Linked DNA regions of Homo sapiens: all the other regions are linked to region 2. The links come from fine-mapping of genetic effects on gene expression. A gene starts in region 2. Each other region holds a variant in brackets. All regions are shown on one strand. Distances are between the middles of the regions. Region 1 overlaps KNSTRN (kinetochore localized astrin (SPAG5) binding protein). Region 2 holds the start of DISP2 (dispatched RND transporter family member 2). Region 3 overlaps KNL1 (kinetochore scaffold 1).

Evidence for each region. PIP is the estimated chance that this variant, and not a neighbour inherited with it, causes the effect.
Region 1: its variant is fine-mapped to the expression of DISP2 in fibroblasts (GENCORD, PIP 0.95).
Region 3: its variant is fine-mapped to the expression of DISP2 in subcutaneous fat (GTEx, PIP 0.94).

The regions. Positions count from the first base shown.
Region 1 is chr15:40,390,905-40,393,664 of GRCh38, forward strand. It overlaps KNSTRN (kinetochore localized astrin (SPAG5) binding protein), which reads left to right. Exons shown (of 9, transcript NM_033286.4): 7 at 589-650; 8 at 1,045-1,119; 9 at 2,565-2,760. The coding sequence ends at 2,693. Among named protein-coding and RNA genes, the nearest start is that of KNSTRN, 9.6 kb to the left of the region's middle. The variant G/GTT (reference allele first, on the strand shown) is at 1,282.
Region 2 is chr15:40,356,881-40,359,640 of GRCh38, forward strand. DISP2 (dispatched RND transporter family member 2) reads left to right here and starts at 1,339. Exons shown (of 8, transcript NM_033510.3): 1 at 1,339-1,560. The coding sequence starts at 1,442. RefSeq lists a silencer at 1,260-1,519.
Region 3 is chr15:40,664,215-40,666,934 of GRCh38, forward strand. KNL1 (kinetochore scaffold 1) reads left to right here. Exons shown (of 26, transcript NM_144508.5): 26 at 1-128. Among named protein-coding and RNA genes, the nearest start is that of RAD51-AS1, 30 kb to the right of the region's middle. The variant C/T (reference allele first, on the strand shown) is at 1,228.

The DNA.
Region 1 (2,760 bases), 34 kb after region 2:
ATGCCCAGCCTAGGATATTCTTTATAGTCACCATAAATATATATGTTTTTAAATTTAAAATTGTTTATTTTTTTGAGATGGGATCTCGCTATGTTGCCCAGGCTGGCCTCCAACTCCTGGGCTCAAGCAATCCTCCCAAATAGCTGGGACTACAGGTGTGCACCACCACATCCGACACCATAAATATTTTGTATGATTTTAGTTTATTACATGCATGTGATATTACCGAAAGTAATAATTTTTTAAGGCCTGAAAGGCTCTTAAAAATAGCTTTGTGAATTGTGAACAAAACCAAAAAAAATCCAACCTATACATTTCCTTTGGACAAATTGTCCACTGACCTAAGGAGAAAGTATACCGAATTTTTGGCCATATCAAAACCTAGATTGAAAGGAGATAAAATACAGTTTTGCAGGGCAGATATGGGTGACCCTGCCAAGGTGAAAACTTAGGAGAAAGTCCAGGATGAGACACTTAAGAGAAATTCCCCTCATGAATATTTCTGTACTTGTCCACGGAGGGTTTTTATTTTCTTTTGTTTAGGGTGTGTAGTTCCCTAAGTGAGATTGACTTTGTTGTATCCATCAGCTTTAGGCAGTGAGACCCTGGCATCACGACAAGAATCCACTACTGATCACATGGACTCTATGGTGAGGGCATGGGTGTGAAAGGGCGCAAGGGCTGAGTGACTGTGGGGCTCTGTAAATCTAAGAAGGTCTCTGCTATATATTCCATAAACTCCAAGAAACAGCCTTTGATTATCTGTGATGCTAGAAAAGAGAAATGGGATGTGTACTCAAAATAGCATATTTTACTTGAAAGGTAGCTTTGTGCTTACAAATATAAGTGAGTCTGAATTGAAAATTTAAAACACATAATAGGTAAACCTGTAGAGAGAGCTTTCTCGTTCTTCTGTTCTATACTTTATCAAATTTCTCTCCTGACTCCTTTGTTGAGAACTGTGTGGAAAGGATGTTAGCCATCATCTAATGCAAGTCTGGTTTTATATGAAGATTTGTTTACTACATTGTGCTTTCCTCTTAGTTGCTGTTAGAAACTTTGCAAGAGGAGCTGAAGCTTTTTAACGAAACAGCCAAAAAGCAGATGGAGGAGTTACAGGTGAGAGGCAGACATCACCCTGACCATTTCCTACCATGATAGGTAGATTTATAGTGGGGTCTTTTCTGTTTTTCTATTTATTTTTAATAAACTTTCTAAATAATTTTAGATTTATAGGAAAGTTACAAAGATAATACAGAAAATTTACCCTGATAGTAACGT[G/GTT]TTTTTTTTTTTCCAACTTTTAAGTTCAGGGGTACACGTACAGGGTGTGTAGGCTTGTTACACAGGTAAACGTGTGCCATGGTGGTTAGCTGCACAGATCATCCCATCACCTAGGTATTGAGCCCAGCATCCATTAGCTATTCTTCTTGATGCACTTCCTCCTCCACCCCCAATAGTAACATCTTACATTATCCTGGTACATTTGTCAAAACTAAGAAATCAGCCAGGCATGGTGGCTCACGCCTATAATCCCAGCACTTTGGGAGGCTGAGGTGGAAGGATTACTTGAAGCCAGGAGTTTGAGACCAGCCTGGGAAACATAACAAGACCCCATCTCTACAAAATAAAATTTAGAAAATAGCCAGGCGTGGTGGTACATACCTGTAGTCCCAGCTGCTCAGGAGGCTGAGGCAAGAAGACCACTTGGGCCCAGGAGGGCAAGGAGATAAAGTCTCACTGTTGTCCCCCAGGCTGGAGTGCAATGGCGTGATCTCGGCTCACTGCAACCTCCGCCTCCCGGGTTCAAGCGATTTTCTTGCCTCAGTCTCCCAAGTAGCTGGGATTACAGGCATTTGCGACCATGACCGGCTAATTTTTATATTTTTAGTAGAGACAGGGTTTCACTGTGTTGGCCAGGCTGGTTTCGAACTCCTGACCTCAGGTGATCTGCCCGCCTAGGCTTCCCAAAGTGCTGAGATTGCAGGTGTGAGCCACTGCACCCGGCAGGAAAAAAATTTTTTAAAAAACAGACCAACATCAGTACATTACTATTAACTATATTCCAAGTCTTCATTTGGATTTTAGCAGTTTTTTCCACTAATTTTTTTTTTTCTGTTACCGAGGCTTCTTGCAAATGTTCACATCACCAAGGCATGAGGCAATGTGTAACACAGTAGGTTGCTCAGAGTTGGGAATTGAGAACTATATGTAATCCATTCTATGGAAACTTGATAACTCAAGGAGAAGACCTGTAGTAAGCACAGATTCTTTGGTCTGGACTGTTTCAGATTGCTTGGATGAATCATGGGATATTGCACCAAATGTAGAGGATTTCATCGTTCCAGTTTAGATACAGGAGTCTAGTCCCTCTCTACTACTAGAGGGACAATTCCTAAAACCAGTGCATAGAAATAAAATCTAAAATAGAAGATACAGTCTGTTGATACTCCAGTGGTCTTCCTTAGTGGAATAGGAGCATAATGTTCTGATGTGGGAATTGTGTTTCCTGTTAGTCAAGAGTTTTGTGTATGTGTTGTTTTCTTTTGGAATGTCTTTCCATGCAGGCCTTAAAGGTAAAGCTGGAGATGAAAGAGGAAAGAGTCCGATTCCTAGAACAGCAAACCTTATGTAACAATCAAGTAAATGATTTAACAACAGCCCTTAAGGAAATGGAGCAGCTATTAGAAATGTAAGAAGAAGCAAGTGGCCAGATGGCTCCCTCTTGGGCATAAAATCTCAGAGGAAGCTACTTAGGACATC
Region 2 (2,760 bases):
TCCAAGCCAGCTGAAGCCCCACCATCTCCAAGAAGCCTTCTCTAAGGCCTATTAGGAAGAAAGAGGTCCTTCCTTTTTGCATACTGTCCCCTTCTCAACCACCTCATGGGCCTCACCATATCTTGCCTATTGGCAGCAATTTATGGGCTGGCCCTTTATCTCTCCAACCAAACTATAAGCTATTCAGGGCAGACCCAACACTTCTACACCTCTAGATTCTTCCACCCCATTTCTTATGACCTGTGTCTTACACGGACTGGCATTGGCACACATTTTAGGGATACCTATAGTCCAAGTGTTCCTGACTCTCTCCTCAGCCCCATGTCTTCAACCAAGGCCTCTCCCTGCACAAGTAACCAGGCCCTGAACAGCCTGCTTGCTGTAAAACCCTTTCTGCCTAGTCAAATCCCACATCCAGGATCCTCTCCACTCCCAGCCCCCCAGGCTTCTCACACTGCCAATATCTATTCTAGTTCTAGACCCCTTAGCCAGGCCTGTCCACAGTCCATCATACCCAAATGTGCTCTACTCACAGCTACTCCCTGGTGGGGGAGGTGGCACTGGAGTCAGTGGCTATTGGGCACCTCCCAGTGCCCTGGAGTCAGTGGCTATTGGGCACCTCCCAGGCTGAGGTGGGGTGGGGGGGCAGCGGTGACTATAAAAAAGGATCTGGGATCACTCAATATACCCTTATAACAAACCTGCACATGTGCCCCTGAATCAAAAATTAACCTTAGCTTACTGTGATTTGTTTGCTTTATAAACCTTTTAAATTTTAAAAAAGAAAGAGAAGGAGCTGGGGATGATCTGAGCGCCTCTCTTCTTCCCCCACCTCCTTCACCAGACTGCGCACTTGAGTAACGGAGTCAGGGCTCCGCATCTAAGGGGTGCACACCCAGGTCCAAGTCGAAGTCCAGAAGGATGGGAAGAAAGACCCAACCTGATGCCTCGCCCCACTGGGGAGGGGAGGAGGGCGCTGAGCGAGCCGGGAACCTCGCAGGCCTGAAGCCGCCCGCCTCGACCCGGGGCGTCCAGCGTGGTGAAGTGCGGGCGTGGAGCTCGCCCTCTATCCGGCTGGAAGGGTCTGCGTTTTGATTTGTGAGGATCTCTGCATGTGTCGCGCTCTCTGGTTCCTTACGGGAAGGCCGAGGCCGCTAGGAAGGGTTGCACGGCCGGACTCCTAACAGCGGCTCTCTGGCCTGGCGGGAGCAGAGGGGCGCTCACATCCGCAGCCCCGGGATCTTAGAGACAGAGCGCTCCGCTCCGGCAGCGGCGCCGCGCCCATTGGCTGGGCTCCTCCTCGCCCCGCCCAGCGACCGGCCCGCTCAGAGCCTACGCATGCGCACGAGCACCCCGCCGCCGCTGCCGCCGCCACCGCCGCCGCCGCCGCCGCCGCCGCGGCTTCAGCACCAGCGCCCGGACAGCGGTGCCGCCCACGGGCATGGACGGTGACAGCAGCAGCAGCAGCGGCGGCAGCGGTCCGGCTCCCGGCCCGGGTCCGGAAGGGGAGCAACGGCCCGAGGGGGAGCCCTTGGCCCCAGACGGCGGCTCCCCGGACAGGTAGGGCGGACAGCTCCGCAGATCCGTATCACAGACCCTCCCAGACCCTCCCCGCCCCAGGTATCCCCAGTAGCCGCCATATGTTGCCCCATTCATTCCCCAGACCCTCCCGGAGCCCCTTCCCGGGGTCGCCAAGCTCCAGGCCCCCCTCGCCACGCCCTCATCCTGCCGGGTCAATTTCCTCGCTCCCTGACACCCCCTAGTGTCAGCCCCCATCGCCCTCCCCGCTTAGGGAACCTGCCCCACCCACGGCTCCTACCCCTCCTCTCAGGCCAGGACTCCCTGGCTCCTCCGGCCCCTCCTTCTAGGCCCTGCCCCTGCGTCTTCTCCGGAAGCCCCAAGCCCGCAGTAACCTCAGTCCGGGTTTCAGCGTGCCAGTGTGCATGAAGGTGTGCGTGAATCGCGGATGGGAGGCTCGCCAAGGCGGGTGTCCTGGGGAAGGCAGACATTCGGCAGGCACGTCAGGGACTGTCTTTGTCACCATCAGTCGCTTGCCTGCCCTGCATGACCCCCAGCTGTGCACGTGTGGGTTCCAGTCCCTGCATGTGGCAGCCACACTGGCTGGAGCCGCTAAGATGGGAAGGATTTGGTGCTCAGGCTGCTGGCCTGTACCACCCCTGGAGGAGCCCCATACTGGTGGGACAGGAGGGACACCTTCCTGCTGAGGGCCCAGATCTCAGCACCTCTCTTCTCCCTTCCTCCACCATATGTGTGAGGGAACAGCCCAGCTAGGTAGCAATATGGCGCAATTTCTGTGCCCTGCCTGGCTCTGCCGCCCCCAGAATCCCTCCTCTGACATGACACTGCCTCTTTCCTGCCTGGACTGAAATAAAAGGCATTCCTTGATAGCAATAGCAGAAGTGGACACATCGTCTCCAGAATACCCCAGTTAAAATGTACATTCTGTACCCCAGAGGGGGAGAAAGCCCCACAAGTAGAGAGAAATGCTTTCTTCCCTTTATTGTTAACACATTAGCCTGGATAGATTTAGCCACTCTTCAGTCTGAAAGTCACAAAGCCTTCAAGAAGGTGAGACACAGGATGGGTGTATTCACCAGTCCAGGGACCTGCCTGGGACTATGGCCTGATCAAAGATGGGGCAGTGACAGGACAGAGCGAGGACCTGGGGCCAGAAGCATCCCTAGAAGGGGCAGGAGAGTCATTTGCTGTCTCAGATATCTTGCCAAGGATCAGCCATGT
Region 3 (2,720 bases), 310 kb after region 2:
ACTTAGTTATTTGTGTTTTTCTTTGTTCAAGGTATTGACTAGTTTCATAAATTTTTTGAAAGTTTTTCTTTCATTGGTTGGAAAGCAGATTACATTTTGCACTATTAAAATAAGTTTATTACTTTAAATCTTTTGTGAGTAGTGTTTCTTTATAAAGAATATTTTAGCATTTATCCAATAGACCTTTGAAGATATACCAAAGAAACCTTCCTCTGGAGACACCTACCTATTCAAAACTGAGATTAGGCCGAGTTCAAGCAGGGTGCTTCAGGCCAAGAATTCAAATCCAGCCTACACAACATAGCAAGACCCTATCTCTAAAAAATTTTTTTTTCTTGGCTGGGCATGGTGGCTCATGCCTGTAATGCCAACCCTTCGGGAGGCTGAAGTGGGCAGATCACCTGAGGTCGAAAGTTTGAGACCAACCTGACCAACATGGAGAAACCGTGTCTCTACTAAAAATACAAAATTAGCCAGTCATGGTGGCACATGCCTGTAATCCCAGCTACTTGGGAGGCTGATGCAGGAGAATTGCTTCAACCCGGGAGACAGAGGTTGCAGGGAGCCGAGATCGCACCATTGCACTCCAGCCTGGGCAACAAGAGTGAAACCCCCATCTAAAAATTAAAAAATAAAAATTTTTCTTGTTTTTGAGATGTGGTCTCACTATGTTGCCCAGGCTGGTCTCGGACTCCTGGGCTCAAGAGATCCTCCCATCTCAGCTTCCCAAATTGCTGGGATTATAGGTGTCGGTCACTGCACCCAGTTTGCTATTCTTTTTCTAACTTCTTGTGATGGTAGGTACCTAGCTCATTTATTTTCATTCTTTTTTTTTTGAGACGGAAGTCTTGCTGTGTCACCCAGGCTGGAGTGCAGTGGCCTATCTCGGCTCACCAAAACCTTCGCCTCCCAGGTTGAAGCGATTATCTTGCCTCAGCCTCCTGAGTAGCTAGGATTACAGGCGTGCACCTCCACACCCAGCTAATTTGTGTATTTTTGGTAGAGACAGGGTTTCACCATGTTGGCCAGGCTGGTTTCAAACTCCTGACCTCAGGTGATTCATCCACCTCGGCCTCCCAGAGTGCTGGGATTACAGGCATGAGCCACTGTGCCCAGCCTATTTTCATTCTTTTAACAAGTACTTATGATATATTTCTTTTCTTTTCTTTCTTTCTTTTTTTTTTTGAGGTAATCCATCTGCCTCTGTATCCCAAAGTGCAGGGATTA[C/T]AGGCGTGAGCCACCATGCCTGGCCCCATATATTTGTTTCTAAGTAATGTTGTTTATCACTCATTCTTCTCCTAATCTGTTTTTTTTTTTTTGTTTTTTTTTTTTTTTTTAATATTTATGTCTTTTTTTGTTTGTTTGTTTGAGAGGCCAAGTCTCACTATGTTGCCCAGGCTGGTCTCAAACTCCTGAGCTCAAATGATCTTCTCGCCTCAGCCTCCCAAAGGGCTGGAATTACAGGCCTGAGTCATTGTGCCCAGTCTCAAATATATATGTCTTTTTTGGTCAATAAGAAAGTGAGATTATTACTGTTTCTTAGAACATGACTTCATAACAGAGCTCAGCCCCAAAGATCCAGATCAGACTTGAAGAACAAGAGTTTGAAGGTGATTGCTCCACAAATAAAAAATACTTGTGGGGCAAGAGATTGATTCCAGCATTAATATGTTTGCTTCTAAAATTTTTTCTTTCTTTTTTTTAGACAGGGTCTCTCTCTGTCACTCAGGCTGGAGTGCAGTATCACGATCATGGCTTACTGCAGCCTTGACCTCTCTGGGCTCAAGCGATCCTACCATATCAGCCTCTCGAATGGCTGGGACTACAGATGCACACTACCACCCCCAGCTAATTTTTGTGGAGATGTGATTTCAACATGTTGCCCAAGATGGTCTCAAACTCCTGGCTCAAGTAATCCACCCACACTGGCCTCCTAAAGTGCTGGGATTACAGGTGTGAGCCACCACAGCTGGCCTAAAATTTTCTTCAGTTCTAAAGTTTGTGAAAAGCAACAGTAAGGCTGGGCACGGTGGCTCATGCCTGTAATCCCAGCACTTTGGGAGGCCGAGGTACAAAGATTTCATGATATATAAACTGATTCTGTCTAAAATCTGTTTTTATGCTAAACTTAGTATCACATATAATTATTTTTAAAAATTTTTAATCACCTTATGTTATCCTATACTAGATTTTATTCATTCTATCTAACTGTATTTTTGTGCTTCATCACTTGAGGTCGGGAGTTCAAGACCAGCCTGGCCAACATGGTGAAACCCCATCTCTACTAAAAATACAAAAATTAGCTGGACGTGTTGGCACATGCCTGTAATCCCAGCTACTTGGGAGGCTGAGGCAGGAGAATTGCTTGAACCTGGGAGGCGGAGGTTGCAGTGAGCTGAGATGGCGCCACTGCACTCCAGCCTGGGTGACAGAGTGAGACTCCATCTCCAAAAAAAAAGAAAAAGGAACGTAAATAACAAATCAGACTGAGCCTGGTAGGACCTATAGCTGAGATTAATTACACTCACAGCTGAAGAAGGTTTTTAGACTGAATGACAGAATAAATCCCAAGTGGCAAAAATATACATTTCACTCCTTTAAAAATATTTCACCAGAAATATTTAGGGAAAAAATCATGATGTAAGATATTTTAATCCCCAGGAAATGGCTGGGCGCAGTGGCTCACGCCTGTAATCCCAGCACTTTGGGAGGCCAAGGCG